Regions from separate parts of the Homo sapiens genome. Here region 1 is linked to region 2. Evidence: fine-mapped expression QTL. A gene starts in region 2. The other region holds a variant in brackets. All regions are shown on one strand. Distances are between the middles of the regions.

The links. PIP is the estimated chance that this variant, and not a neighbour inherited with it, causes the effect.
Region 1: its variant is fine-mapped to the expression of ZPBP in testis (GTEx, PIP above 0.99).

Annotation. Positions count from the first base shown.
Region 1 is chr7:49,941,494-49,949,839 of GRCh38, reverse strand. All of the region lies in intron 7 of ZPBP (zona pellucida binding protein), which reads left to right. It also overlaps the pseudogene GNL2P1. Among named protein-coding and RNA genes, the nearest start is that of ZPBP, 150 kb to the left of the region's middle. The variant C/T (reference allele first, on the strand shown) is at 4,541.
Region 2 is chr7:50,088,362-50,096,707 of GRCh38, reverse strand. It overlaps ZPBP (zona pellucida binding protein), which reads left to right and starts at 3,462. Exons shown (of 8, transcript NM_007009.3): 1 at 3,462-3,640; 2 at 6,999-7,079. The coding sequence starts at 3,514. SPMIP7 (sperm microtubule inner protein 7) reads right to left here and starts at 825. Exons shown (of 9, transcript NM_001161834.3): 1 at 70-825. The coding sequence starts at 622. LOC124901630 (a long non-coding RNA gene) reads right to left here and starts at 3,429. Exons shown (of 2, transcript XR_007060321.1): 1 at 2,978-3,429; 2 at 2,367-2,893. RefSeq lists silencers at 3,369-3,528, 3,609-3,658.

The DNA.
Region 1 (8,346 bases), 150 kb after region 2:
GAATGTGTATATATCACTTTTTATTATGGTAAAATGTACATAACATAAAATTTAACATTTTAAGTGTATTTAAATGTATAATTTAAATACACAGTGGCATTAACTTCAGTCCCACTGTTGTGAAATCATCATCACCATCCATCTCTAGAATTTTTTTCAACTTCTAGACTGAAATTGTATACCCATTAAATAATAACTCCCCATTCCCTTCTCCCTCCAACACCTGAAAACCACCATTCTACATTTTTTCTCTATAAATGTGACTACTCTAGATACCTCATATAAGTGGAATCATATAGTATTTGTCTTTTTATGACTGGCTTATTTCACTTAGCACAATATTTTTAAGATTCATCCATGTTATAGCATGTGTCAGAATTTCCTTTTTAAGGCTGAATAACATTCTATTGTACCTATACACACATTTTGTTTTTCATTTATTCACTGATGGGCATTGGGCTACATCCAGCTGTTGGCTATTGTGAATAATGCTGCATTAAACACAGGTAAGCAAATACCTGCAAGATCCTGCTTTCAGTTATTTTAGATATATACTATATTAGGCTGCCATAATAAAATTTCATAGAATGGGTGGCTTAAACAACAGAAATTTATTTTCTTACAATTCTGGATGCTAGAAGTCCAAGATCAGTTTCTGGAGAGGGCTCTCTTCTTGATTTCAGACAGCCACCTTCTGGTATTGTCCTTACATGGCTTTTCCTTGGTGCATATTCATGGAGAAAGAGGTAGCAGTGTTTCTGGTCTGTTTTCTTATAAGGAGATTAATCTTATCAGATAAGGGCCCTGCCTTTATTACCTCATTTAAATTTATCTCCTTAGGGGCCTTATCTCCAACATTGCCTCATTGGAGATTAGGGCTTTAATATATCAATTTGGAGGGACACAAACGTTAAGTCCATAATGCATACAAATGTCTCTTTGAGACACTTCTTTCAATTCTTTTGAGCATATACCCAGAAATGGGATTGCTGATTCATATGGCAATTCTATTTTAATTTCTTGAAGAGCCACCATACTGATTTTCCATAGCCACTATACCATTTTACATTCCCATCAGCAATGCACAAGGCTCACAATTTCTCCATGTCCTCACCAACACTAGTTATTTTCCATTTTCTTGATACTTGTCGTCTCATTGTGTTTGAAGTGGTATCTCATTATGGTTTTGAGTTGCATTTCCCTAATGGTTAGTAGTGTTGAGCATCTGTTTATATACTTATTGACCATTTGTGTATCTTCTTTGGAGAAACACCTATGCAAGTCTTCTTCCCATTTTTTAATTGGGTTGTTTGTTGAATTATAGGAGTTTAAAATTCAAAAAAAAAATGTTAACCACTTATCAGACATGTGATTTGCAAATATTTTCTCCTATATTGTGGGTTGCCTTTTCACTATATTTGATAATGTCCTTTGATACACAAAAGGTTTTATTTTTATAGAACCCAATCTTTATTTCTTGTGCTTTTGGTATCACGTAAAAGAAATCAAAACAGGGAGAAGGCAGAGTAAGATGGCCAAATAGAACCCTCCAGTGATTATCCCTCCTGCTGGAACACCAAATTGAACAACTGTCCACACAAAAAAGCACCTTCATAAGAATCAAGCATTAGCTTGGATACCAGCTTTGTGGAGTAGAGCAACAAGTGGGCTCCTGGAGTCTTCAGTTCCAGGCCATCGCTCCTGGATAGGATTTCTGGACCTTCTCTGAGCTAGGGGGTAGCCCACTGCCTTGAAAGGAGAGACTCAGAACTGGCAGCATTCACCACAAGCTGACTGAAGGGCCTTTGGGCCTCGAGTGAACATTGGTGGTAGCCAGGCAATACTTGCTGCAGGCCTGGGGCAATGATGGTCATAGAGAGAGACTACTATGCTTGAGAATAGGGGAGTGAAGAGTGGGAAAGACTTTGTCTTGAAGCTTTGGTGCCAGTTCTGCTGCTGTAGAATAGAGGACCAGGTAGATTCCAGTCCTTGGTTCCCAGATGGCATCTCTGAACACAGTTAGGGCTGGAAGAAACTTACCAACAGGAAGTGAAGGATATGAGCCTGGCTGGACTCACTACCTGCTTATTGTAGAGCCCTTGGGTCTTCAGTGAACATAAGCGGTAGTTAGGCAGTGGTGACTATGAGCCTTGGGTGAAACCCAATGCTATGCTGGCTTCAGGTCTGACCCAGTGCAGTCACAGGTGGTGGTTGCCACAGGGTGCCTGATTCACCCCTCCTCTTGTTCCAGTCAGCTCAGCACACACAGAGAGACTCTGTTTGTTTGCAGGAAAATAAGAGAAGAGAACAAGAGTCTCTGCCTGGTAATCCAGGGAATTCTTCTGAATCTTACCCAAAACCTCCAAGGCAGTGCATCTGCAAGTCTGCAGGAGCCACAGTGTTACTAGGCTTGGAGAGCCCCCTAATGCAGATATAGCTGCAGTGACCAAAGACTTCAATCACAACACTGAAGTCTCTTTGAATACCTAGAAGGCCTTCCCAGGGAGGATGGGTACATAAAAGCCCAGACTGCGAAGACCACAATAAATACCTGACTCTTCAATGCCAAGACATCAACAAACATCCACAAGCATCAAGATCATCCAGGAAAACATGACCTCATCAAATGAACTAAATAGGGCACCGGTGATCAATCTTGGGAAACAGATGTGTAACCTTTCAGATGGAGAATTCATAATAGCTATTTTGAGGAAGCTTAACAGAATTCAAGATAACACAGAGAAGGAATTCAGAATCCTGTCAGATAAATTTAACAAAGAAATTGAAATAATTAAAAAGCATCAAGCAGAAGTTCTGGAGCTGAAAAATGCAATTGATATATTGAAGAATGCATCAGAGACTCTTAACAGCAGAATTTATCAGGCAAAATAAAGAATTAGTGAGCTTCAAGGTAGGCTATTTGGAAATACACAGTCAGAAAAGACAAAAGACAAAAAGATGAAGCATGTCTAGAAGATCTAGAAAATAGCCTCTAAAGGGCAAATCTAAGAGTTATTGGCCTTAAGGAGAAGGGAGAGTGAGAGGTTGGGGTACAAAGGTTATTCAAAGGGATGGTAACAGAGAAGTTTCCAAACCTAGAAAAAGGTATCAGTATTCAAGGACAAGAAAGGTATAGAACACCAAGCAACTTTAACCCAGGTGAGACTACCTCAAGACATTTAATAGTCAACCTCCCAAAGGTCAAGGATAAAGAATGGATCCTAAAAGCAGCAAAAGAAAAGAAACAACATACAATGGAGCTCCAGTACATTTGTGAGCAGACTTCTCAGTGGAAACCTTATAGGCCAGGAGAGAGTGGTATGACATATTTAAATTGCTGAAGGAAAAAAAAGAAAAAATTTGTATCCTAGAATAGTATATCTGGCAAAAATATTCTTCAAACATGGAGAAGAAATAAAGACTTCCCCAGAAAAACAAAAGCTGAGGGATTTCATCACCACCAGACCTTGCCTATAAGAAATGCTAAGGAGAGTTCTTCAATCTGAAGGAAAGGGATGTTAATGAACAATAAGAAATCATCTGAAGTAAATACACAAAAAAACACAGAATATTATAATACTGCAATAGTGGTGTATAAACACTCATATCTCGAGTAGAAAGACTGAAAGATGAACCTATAAAAATAATAACTACAACAACTTTTCACAACACTGTATACTAAGATATAAATAGAAACAACAAAAAGCTAAAAAGGGGGGGATGAAGTTAAACTGTAGAGTTTTTTACTAGTTTTCTCTTTGCTTGTTTGTTTATGCAATCAGCATTAAGTTGTTGTCAGTTTAAAATAACAGGTTACGTGATATTATTTGCAAGGCTATGGTAACCACAAATCAAAAAACACAACGGATATGTACATATACCACCAGAGAAAATCACCTTCACTAAAAGGAATACAGGAAGAAAAGAAAGAAGGAAAAGACCACAAAACAACCAGAAAACAAGTGACAAAATGGCAAAAGTAATTCCTTATGAGTAATAACATGGAATATAAATGCACTAAACTCTCCAGTAAAGAGACAAAGAGAGCTGAATGGATAAAAACACAAGACCCAACAATCTGTTGCCTACATGAAACACACTACACCCAGACGGACACACACATAGGCTGAAAATAAAGAGTTAAAAAAAGTTCCATGCAAAACCAGAAAAGAGCAGGAGTAGCTATACTTATATCAGGAAAAAAAAAATAGATTTCAAGACAAAAAGCATAAAAACAGACAAGGTCATTGAATAAAGAAATCAATTCAGCAAGAGGATATAATAATTCTTAATATATATGAATCTAACACAGGAGCATCCAGATATATAAAGCACATATTATTAGAGCTAAAGAGAGAGACCCCTATACAATAATAGCTGGAGACTTTAACACCCTACTTTCAGTGCAGCATTGGACAAATTATCCAGACAGAAAATCAACAAAGAAATATCAGGCTTAATCTCTACTATACAACAAATGAACCTAATAGCCATATTCACAGAACATTTCATCCCACAGTTGCAGAATACACATTCTTCT[C/T]CTCAGCTCATGGATAATCCTCAAAGATAGGCCATATGTTAGGCCACAAATCAAATCTTTAAAAAGTCAAAAAATTGAAATTATATCAAGTATCTTCTCTGACCACAATGGAATAAAACTAGAAATGAATAACAAGAGGAATTTTGAAACTATATGAACACCTGGAAATTAAACAATATGCTCCTGAATGACCAGTGGCTCAATGAAGAAATTAAGAAGGAAATTTTAAAATGTCTTGAAACAAATGAAAATGGAAACCTGATGTACCTAAACCTGTGGGATACAGCAAAAGCAGTACAGGGAAGTTTATTGCAATAGGCACCTACATCAACAAAAGCAGAAAAACTTCAAATTAGCAACCTATTGATACATCTTAAAGAACTAGAAAAACAAGGGCAAACCAAACCCCAAATTAGTAGAAGGAATAAAGATCAGAGCAGAAATAAATGAAATAAAAAAAATACAAAAATCAATGAAATGAAAAGTTATTTTTAAAAAAGATAAACAAAATCAACAAACCTTTAGCCAGACTAAGAAAAAAAGAAGATAAAATAAATGAAAATAAAATCAGATAAAACAGTAGACATTGCGTCTGCTGCCATGGAAATTCAAAGGATCATTAGAGGCTTCTAGGAGCAACTATATGCCAATAAATTGGAAAACCTAGAAGACATTCCCAGACAGATACAGCCTACCAAGATTGAACTATGAAAAAATCTAACAACTGAGGAGACCAATAACAACTACTGAGATTGAAGCTGTAATAAAACAGGTCACTTCAGCCAGGCCTGGGAAGTTCTGAATTCATTTACCCAACATAAGCTGGACTTAGCACTTCAGTTCCCATCTCATCGCCAAGATGGTAAAGCCCAAGTACAAAAGGACAGTGCATCATCAACCTCTTCGATGCCAGCACAAACCCAGACTGAGAGCAGGAAGCAGGAGGTCAAAACATGAGGGACCAGGCCACAGTCTCAGGCCTGAATATGTACAGGCAAAAGAAATACAAGAACAGCTGTGGTAAGATCATTAAGCCCCTGGAATATCAATCAAAGGTGGCTTCTGGCACAGTGGCAAAAGTGCAGCCAAATATCAAATAGTTTGAAAATGCACATGTGATTAAGCAGTCATGATTACAAAAACTTCAAGAGGAAGTGGATACAGTTATGAAGGATTCATACACAGTTGTCATGAAACAAAGCAAGTTACCAATGTCTCTTCTCTAAGATTGAATCCAGCCTCAACTCAAAGGTGCACGTTCCTGATACTGAAAGTTTTAAAACTACATTTGGCCCTATGTCACAAAGGAAGCAACCAAATTTATTTGCAAGTGATATGCAGTCTTTTCTAGAAAATGCTGAAATGTCCACTGAGAGCTAGACCAGTTTCTAGAAAAGATCATGAGTCAGTAACTGAAGACACTGGTGGGATAAATGAAGCACAAGAAGAGACATGTAAAAAGGGACAGTCCAAAGGAATATAGGATGAGCTCTCCAGGGTTATAGATTCACCAGATGTTGTAGTTCTGGTTGCTGGCTAGAGATCCAATGGGTACCCGTTCCCGTCACATTGAGCCTTGAGCCATACTTGAAAAAGAATAAACCCTGGGAACACGTTATGTTTGTACATAACAAATGTGACCTTGTTGCAACCTGGGCAACAAAATGATGGGTTGCTGTCCTCTCCTTGGATTAGCCAACACTTGCTTTCCATGCAAGTCTTACTGACCCCTTTCGCAAAGGAGCATTTATTCAGCTTCTGTGGCAGTTTGGAAAGTTGTACACTGACAAGAAACAGATGAGTGTTGGGTTCATTGGCTATCTAAATGTTGGCAAGAGGTCTGTGATATAAACATAGTGTTCCAAGAAAGTTTGCAATGTGGTCCCCATTGTAGATGAAATATCTGGAAATACATTACCTTGATATGTTGGTTATGCTTCATTGACTGTTCAGGTTTGGTATACTCTTCTGAGGACTTGAAGACAGACATTGTGCTAAAAGGAGTTAAGTAGGAAAAATTAAGACCCCTGAAGACTGCATTGATGTTGTACTTGAACAAGTAAAGCCAGAATATATCAGCAAGACATAAAAGATTAATTCTTGGGAGAATGCTGAGGACTTTATTGAGAAGCTAACTTTCTGGACTGGGAAGTTACTAAAGGGTGGAGTAACTTACTGACTTACTGACTGTGGGTGGATAGTCCTCAATGACTGGCTGAGAGGGCTGGATTCCTTTCTTTGTCAAGCTGCTTAATGGAGAGTCACCTGTGGCCCCCCAGCTTTCACCCTCCTAATCCGTGGAAGTTGCCACAGAAGCAACCCAGAACAATCCAGAAGAGGAAGTGACAGAATGAATACCAAAACTGTAGGTGAAGTGACAGAATCTGTGATTGAAAAAGAAAAAGAAGAGAATAGTCACTGGATGCTAACTCAGAGATGCAACCAATTCTTGTGCATGGGTTCAGCAAAACTTTGGCAAACTCAGTGTGGTGCCTCAGTCTTCTGGGGATGACCTCGCTCCTGTGGATATGTCATATCTGGAGAAAGAGCTTGAGAGCTTTTCTATTGAAGAAGGGGAGCAGAAGCAAGAGATGATGAAGAGTCTTACTAGGAATCTGAGGAAGAACATATGGAAAAATCACACCAAAGCCATTATTAAAGCTCTAGATGAGAATATTGCTAAATATCAGAAGTTTTTAGACAAAGCTAAAGCTAAAAAGTTTTCAGGAGTCAGAATATCCAAGGTACTAAGTGAAAAGATATTTGAAAAACATGAAGAGCAGAGAAAAATATCTGAAGAAGATGCAGATGCTACACAGCATTTACCAAAAAAGGAAATAAGCAGAACACAGAGGGAAGAGGAATATTCAAGTAAAACTTGCAGGATGCTTACATCTAAGGAATGGAAGTGAGCAGTACAGCAGCAACAATCCAAAAAAATTTGTGTGCACTACTATGAAACACACAATGTGAAAAATACAAGCGGGAACAAAAAGAAGACCAATGACTCAGAGGGACTGAAGCAGAAACACAAAAATTCAGATATTAGCAGTAACGTTTAAAAGGTTGTGTATTATACAAAAATATGCAAAAAAAGAGAAATCATTGTAAAATGCAGTATCCTGAAGCTTTTCCCCAGTGTCATCTTCTAAATGTTCTACAGTTTTAGCTCTTAAGTCCTTGATTCATTTTGAGTTAATTTTTGTATATGGTCTAAGAATCCAACTTCATTTAGTTGTCTGTGTATATCCAGTTTTCCCAATACCATTGGGTGAAAAAAATTGTTCTTTCCCCATTGAATGATCTTGGCATCCTTTGTGAAAATCATTTGTCCCTGTATGCAAGGATTTATTACTGGGCTTTCTATTCTGTTCCATTAGTCTGTATGTCTGTCTTTTTGGCAGCACCACACTGTTTTGATTATTGCAGCTTTGTAGTAAGTTTTAAAATCAGGAAATGTGAGACTTTCAACTTTGTTTTTCTTTTTCAATATTTTGGCTATTTGGAGTCTCTTGAGAAAGATTTTTGTTTTTCACAAAAAAAAATGTTATTGGGATTTTGATAGAGATTGCATTGAATCAATAGCTTTGTGTGGTGTTAACACTTTAATATTGTGTTCCAACCCATGAACATGATATGTCTTTCTATTTATTTGTGTCTTCTTGAATTTTTTTCAACAATTTTTGGTAATTTATAGTATACATTATTCCACCACCTTGGTTGAGTTTATGCCTAAATATTATTTGATTGTATTTTAAATGGAACTATTTTCCTAATTTCCCTTTTGGATTGTTTATTGTTAATGT
Region 2 (8,346 bases):
TGAATCTTATGTCCATACTCTCTTCCCTTGAGCATTTAAAAAATAGAAAGTTCATGTCACTTCATTTACCTCCAAGTCTTGCTCTGATAGAAATGTCTGGTACTTCCCTGGAATTCCATCTCCTGTTCTGTTGCAGTTCTTCTGATAGAATTTTTTGCCTTTTTATTGTTGTTTGAAATCCTGTGTCTGGTCTGGGAACTCGATGTTGAGGTTTCACATCACTAAAATCCACTAGGGTTGGTATGGTTCTGCCAATGCCAGGATTTAAATCAGCATCACCACCAGGACTCATAAACCCTGAACAGGAATCACCTAAGGTCACATCATCCCGAAGTGGAAATAATGGATAATGTGGCCCATATGGTGGGGGATAAGGATCATGTAAATGATAGTCTGGCAAAACTGAAGGGGGATAAGGGTGAAATTTAAGAAAAGCAGGGTTGCATTTCTTTTCAAACCTGCCATAGTTATGTCTGTTCTCAAGACCTTTCACAAAAGGCATGTTCATTTTTCTTAAGAGATCACAATAGTGTGGGTAATCTATATTCTCAACAGTTCCTGAAAGGATGGACCTTTTAGAGATACTTATCTTTCCAGGTGTGTCCTGAATTTCTACATCCATGGCCTTTTTCTTTAGAATTTTTGATAACTATAAAGTATTTCTGATAATTCCTTTATATTTAACTATATAAACTCTATTGCCAATAACTAAAGATCTGTGTTAAACTAGTATAAAATTGACACAGCTTTCTAAATGTTGGCAGATAATTTTGTTTTTCTTTTTAAGGCAAATATTTTCCTCCACCAAAGGAAGAATAGGGCAATGAAGGAACATGACATAAGGAGAATAAAGCAGAGCCCTTGTTGCCTGGCAACGGCTAGAATTCTTAACACATTGAACCATTTATTATGTACATCACAATTCTTAAGAAAAACAAAAATAGCCTTGGTACTAATATTTCCATGATACTTTTCTCCCCAGTGCTCAGGAAAGCTGTGTTCATTTACTTATTTTAAAATTTTTCCATAAGTTGGTATTTTATGGGTATAAAATATATTTAAGGAGTGTAAATAAAGCAGTTAATTCAGTGACAATACATTTCTCAAAAGTATATATGTGACTACAATTAAGTATTTATATATATAACACTTGCTATCTAATTAAATGTAAATCTAAATGCACTACAAAATATAAACATTACTAAAGTTAAATTGGTACATCTAATTTTTTTTTTTTGGTGGAGTCTCACTCTGTCGCCTAGGCTGGAGTGCAGTGGTGTGATCTTGGCTCACTGCAAGCTCCGCCTCCCAGGTTCACGCCATTCTCCTGCCTCAGCCTCCCAAGCAGCTGGGACTGCAGGCGCCCGCCACCATGCCCGGCTAATTTTTTGTATTTTTAGTAGAGATGGGGTTTCACTGTGTTAGCCAGGATGGTCTCGATCTCCTGACCTTGTGATCTGCCCGCCTCGGCCTCCCAAAGTGCTGGGATTACAGGTGTGAGCCACTGTGCCCAGCCCTAGTATATCTAATTTTTAAGAAAAACAGAAAATTATAATGAAAGTACAGGTACATCTTTACATGCCCTAAATTATCTTTACTTCCCTTAAATTTGCCATGGTGTCCAGAGTAAGAACAGTAAGAGTTTTAAGTTCATTTTAGGAAACCACAATGGGTATCAGTTAACTGTCTACACACAAAATATCATTTAAATCACTAATGTATTGGTTCACTTAAAAGCTCTTTCACCTGGATAATTTCATCTTGCATGAACTACTATAAGAGGAAATGCAAATATTAGAATTTGGGGTAAAAGTTCACATCATCCTTACTGCAGCAAAAATGTTAAAACAGGCAAGATTCTAGCTTTGAAGAGTCAGGCACATAATCGTTAATCAGGCCAACTGTCAAGGGTGATATGTTTGGTACAATCAGAATGCCTATGCCCCATTGAAAGTCTTTACAATTTTGAGATATACTATTAAACAAGTGAGATTAAATTAGGTGGTTAGGCTGTCAGTTTTAAATCCTTCATCCAGATCATAGCATATCAAGTGACAGTTTTTAGTCCACCCATGATCACTCATTTCTTCATATCAAAAGTGATAACTCACTTGTAATTAGGCATTCTACATTTAGTTGCTCAAACTTCATTCTTCAATGTATTTAAACCAACTGCTTAAGATTTATTTCTATCACAGCTCTGCTCCCATTAAGTAAATCCTTCCAGCAGCAGAAAAGTAGAGGCATGAGTCTCTTTCAATTTCTCTAAAACAAGTTCTAGCTATAAATGGCCTCTTAGGCTGTGTATGGGAAAATAATAACCCCCATAACTTTGTACTTAGAATGGATCCTTTACAAGAGACAGATTAACAAGAGAAAAACAGATGTTTATTAATATATTTCATTTATATATGAGGAACACCCAGAGAATGAGTAGTTCTCAAAGAAGCGTCTTTGAATTCCAGCTTGTATAGCATCTTCAACAAAGACTAGGAAATTTTTAGAGATGTGACAAAGGAAAAGGACTCTGAGTCTCTACAGGCAGTAACTTGGGCTAAGCAAACAAATAGCAGACAAAAGATGGTTTAAAAAAAGCTAATATTAATTCCTCTGATATCATTTCAAGGCTAATGAGGGTCTGACGCTGTCTTCAGTGGTTAACCTTTGTTCTCCCTGGTAAAGGAGTGGGGCAGGATACCTTTTCTCTTTCTAATCTATGTCTTGCTTCTGGGTAAAAAGAGGGCAGGTGGACAGCTCTCCTGCATCTGCTGGTTCTTGTCTTCAGGGCAGCAATCCTTCATATTTGAGAAGGTATATTCTGGTCTCCCACACAGGATAGATGGTTTTGTATGTTTTGCTGAATTTAGGTGACACTATAAGATGATCTTCCGGTCTATTTTAGAAAGTAAATTTCATCTATGGTTATTTCCTCTGTCCTTCCATCAAGCTTCTTTCTGAGGCTAAAGGCCTTACTTACCTTTAATTCCCACTAAGTGTGTATTGCATTTATCTCCCAATTAAGTTCCACACATCCATAAAATACTATCTGCTGACATTACTAGATCAAAGCAGTCCACTGAGGGCTTTACACGTCTTAACTCATGCATTCTCACTATCTGTTGTTCGAAACTGGGCCCCACATCTACCACCTGGCTCATAAAAAGGGCTTTTCGATCATAAACGCTATGCAAAGGTAAAAGCACGGGATTTGGGGCCCAACGATTCTCTCTCAGCTCTAGGATCTTGGACAAATCACTGATGTTCTTGAGGATGCCCTGCGTGGCTGTGTTGTCCTGAAGGCCCGGGGGCTGCACAGCACAGTTGGCGCGTGTAGGCCCCACCAGCTATGTGGAGACACAGGCTGACCCCTAGTCTACCACCCCGGCGGAAGTGGGAGCACGTCCATCAGGTCCGTTGTTCCGGTCCTCCGCCCGCCAACTTCCGGCTGCAGGTGGGCGCGCGTTGCCTAACGACCTTCCGCGCGGACGGTGGGCAGGCGACGGCGGCGTGTGGATGGAGGCCTTCGCCCTTGGCCCAGCGCGGCGGGGCAGGCGGCGGACCCGGGCCGCCGGCTCCCTGCTCTCTCGGGCCGCCATCCTCCTCTTTATCTCCGCCTTCCTGGTGCGGGTGCCCTCATCAGGTGAGGGTCCGCGCCGCCCTGCCGGCTCCGCAGGGACAACCGCAGCTTCCCCCACTCTTCGAATTGCCTTTTCTTGTGTCACGTGCATCCGTTTTATATAGAGACACCTTGCTCACTAATACGTGACAAGAAAGGCTTATTTTTTATGGAAGTCGTACAAAGTCACTCTGCATTTGCATAGAGGAGTGAATGACAGGAAATTAAGGTATAGATGGATCACTACGTCACCCACAGTTGAAGTTTTACAATTAAATTGCTTTGTTGATAAACTCCCCAATTCAGTCCATGGGTCATCTGCCAGGTTTGCATTTCAGTGTGTGAACTCTGTAATGATGAGATCAGTGTCTTTCAAATAGGCAACCTGCTGCTTTCAAATTATCCGTGATGGTGGAGCGCCATCTATTGGTTTTAGCTGTGAAATACAGGAAATAATGCGATTTTAAAGTTTTGACCTCTAAAGAATTGAAGTACTTTTCTATACTGTTTTAAAAATACATGTAAGATACTGATGAACAAACACTGACGAAGGATGTGAAAGTTTAATTGAACTGTTATTTAACTAGAAAGGTTTTGGCTGCATTCTAGACTCAAAATTCTAGACCCAAAATTGATAAAATCACAGAGATTTGCTTCAAATGAAAAAAGTTGTTCAAATAAGGAATAATGAAAAAAAGAAGTCCTCCAAGAATATAAATGTAAAAGGTTTGTGGAGGTAGGTAGGGGATAGGGGAGGAGAAAGGAAACAAATGGAGTGAATAGAGATTTAAAAATCAAAGTCCAGGCATCAGGAATCCAAAGATTATTCTTCTATAAGTATATGAATAGCCGATAGCCATCAATTGCCATGTAGGAGAAAGATGCTTCTTGGATATGGGTCGTGGTCGTGTATTAGGTGTGAAAGGGTTTTTATTTTAAATTTTTACCTGGTGATCTTTTGATGAAATAATAAGATTAGACCTATGAGATATAAGAAATAGAATAAGCAGTTAGTATCTTGTAAGTGATGAATAGTGAAGGCCTCTTATATAGCATTTTACAATTTATACAGTATTCTCATTTTCTACAGTAACTGTAAGGATGGAATTATTATTAGTCCCATTTTACATATAAGAAAACTGAAGCTCCTAGAGTTTAAAGTGATTTTCCTAAAACCAGTAAGTGGCAGAATTAGGATTTAAACTCAAGTCCTCTGGCTTTGATACCACATCCTTTTCTTTGCACTTTGCTATTCCTGTCTGCTAAAGGCTATTTGGGTATAATGCTTTATTGCATTTTTATACTGCCCCTCACACTATTATGCCCATCACATTTGCTCATTTAACAATGAAGACTATCAGAATATGTTTCACAATTATTATTTAATATTTACAATGTGCAAGGTATAGTGTTTGATACTGATTCTTGATAAGTTAACATAAACATTGATCCCACTATCAATGGAGCTTATAATCTAATAAGGAAAATGGTATGTGTGTATCAAGAACTATAGTATAAGCCGATGTCTACAAGGGTTTTTCTGATATTATCTTCTAGAATTTTTATAGTTTCAGGTCCTAGATTTAAGTCCTTAATTCATCTTGAGTTGATTTTTATGTAAGGTGAGAGATGAGGATCCAGTTTCATTCTTCTGCATGTGGCTTTCCAATTATCCCAGCACCATTTAGGCAAAGATTTCATGTCCAAGAACCCAAAAGCAAATGCAACAAAAACAAGGACAAATATGTCGGACTTAATTAAACTAAAGAGCTTTTGCACAGCAAACGGAACAGTCAGCAGAGTAAACAGACAACCCACAGAATGGGAGAAAACCTTCACAATATATACATCTGGCAAAGGACTAATATCTGGAATCTATATCTAGAATCTACAAGGAACTCAAACAAATTAGCATGAAAAAAAACCCCAACAGTCCCATCAAAAAGTGGGCTAAGGACATGAATAGGCAGTTCTCAAAAGAAGATATACAAATGGCCAACAAACATATGAAAAAATGCTCAACATCACTAGTTATCAGAGAAATGCAAATCAAAACCACAATGTGATATCACCTTACTCTCGCAAGAATGGCCATAATCAAAAAATAAAAAAAAAAATAGATGTTGGTGTGGATGCAGTGAAAAGGGAACACTTCTACACTGCTGGTGGGAATGTAAACTAGTACAACCACTATGGAAAATTGTGGAGATTCCCTAAAGAACTGAAAGTAGAACTACCACTGGATCCAGCAGTCCAACTACTGGTGTCTACCCGGAGGAAAATAAGTCATTATATGAAAAAGGTACTTGCACACACACGTTGATAGCAGCACAATTCACAGTTGCAAAAACATGGAACCAGCCCAAATGCCCATCAGTCAATGAGTGGATAAAGAAACTGTGGTGTATGGTATATGTGTATATATATATGTGTGTGTGTGTGTGCATGTGTGTGTGTATATATATACACATATATACACATATATACGCATATATACGCATATATATACACAAATATATACACATATATATGCATATATATGCACACATATATACACACATATATATACACATATATACACATATATATACACTCATATACACACACACACACACAAACATAAATATATATATGGAATACTACTCAACTATAAAAAGGAATGGATTAATGGCACTTGCAGCAACCTGGATGGGATTGGAGACTATTATTCTAAGTGAAGTAACTCAGGAATGCAAAACCAAACATTATATGTTCTCATTTATAAGTGGGAGCTAAGCTATGAGGATGCAAAGGCATGAGAATGATACAATGGTCTTTGGGGACTCGGGGGTGGGAGAAACGGTGGGATGGGGGTGAGGGATAAAAGACTACAAATTGGGTTTAGTGTTTATTATGTGATGGGTATACCAAAATCTCAAAAATCCTTACTAAAGAATTTATGTAACCGAATACCACCTGTTCCTCCAAAACTTAAGGAAATTAAAAACAAAGAACTATAGTACAATGTAGAATGAGTGTTATTAAAAAGGTGCTGGTGATGTACTGTGGCAGATAAGAAGTGCTAAGGACAAACGAGGTTTGAAGGAGAAGGGACTTGTGATTTGGGTCTTGAATGGTGGGAGATTTGAACTTCTAATAATGAAGAGATTATTCTAAATGGCTTTAGAAAAAATCAGAGGTGAGATATAATATGGAGAAGCAGTACGTAGATTAAATTTATCAGATCATCTGAGGGGGAATAGAGTTGGAACAGTGATATCAACTGTCAGAGGAGATTGAATTATGGCTCTCCCCTTCAACCAATACCAAAGATACTGTAATAGTATATTTGAATATTTTAGAATATCTAATGAGACAAATTGTTGATCTTTTTTTTTGATAGTTGGACACTTGGTTCGATTACCAAGAGCTTTTCGCTTGACCAAAGATTCAGTGAAAATAGTGGGATCAACAAGTTTTCCAGGTATTCATAAATATATTTTCACTAATTTTTAAAAGTTATTAGCATTTGTTTAAATTTATCAGTCTTCTCCAAAAGGCTAATGCTCTTCATTTATCCTAGTCTCCTAAGGCCCTTTTCTTTCTACAGAAGTGGATTAAAGTTGTTTGCATATGGTTAGACTCATCCAGTTCTAATACTATATGCTATAACTACATAAGTATACAAAGAATAATTATTTCTAAAAGTTATCTAAAGTTGCCTGTGTGGATTTTTATTATATAATAATTAGCTATAATATTAAATGTATATAGTGCAAATATGGTAATACAAATCATACATATTTTGGATTCAAAGATTTGCAGTAGTCACATGAAGTATGGCAACTACAACTTGTTTTGGTGGTTTTTAAGTTGTGGCAAATTCACATGCCATAAAATTCTTCCTTTAAAGTGCACAATTCAATTGTTTTTAGTATATTGACAAGATTAGGCAACCATTGCCCCTATGTAATTTTACAACATTTTCATCACCCCAAAAAGAAAGACCTAATCCATTATGCAATCATTCTTCAGCCCTGAAAACTACTTATCTACTTTCTGTCTCTATAGGTTTGCCTGTTCTGGAAATTTCATATAAATGGAGTCATACACTATGTGCCCTTTTGTGTCTGTCTTTCACTTAGTATGACGTTTTTGAGGTTCAGCCATGTTATAGAGTGCATCAATACTTCATTCCTTTTTAGGGTGGGATAATACTCACTTCTCTACCTATGAGTAACTCTATGTTTAATATTTTGAGGAGCTGCCAAACTATTTTTTAAAGAGCCTAAGCTATTTTACTTTCACACCAGCAATGTATGAGGGTTCAGATTTTCCAATATCCTAAACATTGTTATTATCCATCTTCTTTTTTTATAGCTATCCTAGTATGTGTAAACTGGTATCATTGTGGTTTTGATTTGCATTTCCCTAATGACTAATGATGTTGTAACTCTTCATGTGCTTTGTGGCTGTATGGATATGTCATTTGTAGAAATGCCTATTCAAGTCCTTTGCCCGTTTTTAAATTTGGTGGTTTTCTTTTTGTTGTTGAATTATAGAGTTCTTTATATATTCTATATATTGGATACATGATTTGCAAATATTTTTCCCATTCAGTGGATTGTGTTTTCACTTTCTTAATGTGTTCTTTGAAGCATATGTTTTAAACTTTGATAAAGAAGTCTAATTTCTATTTTTTATTTGGTGCTGGTGCTTCAGGTATCATATCTAAGAAATTATTGCCTAAT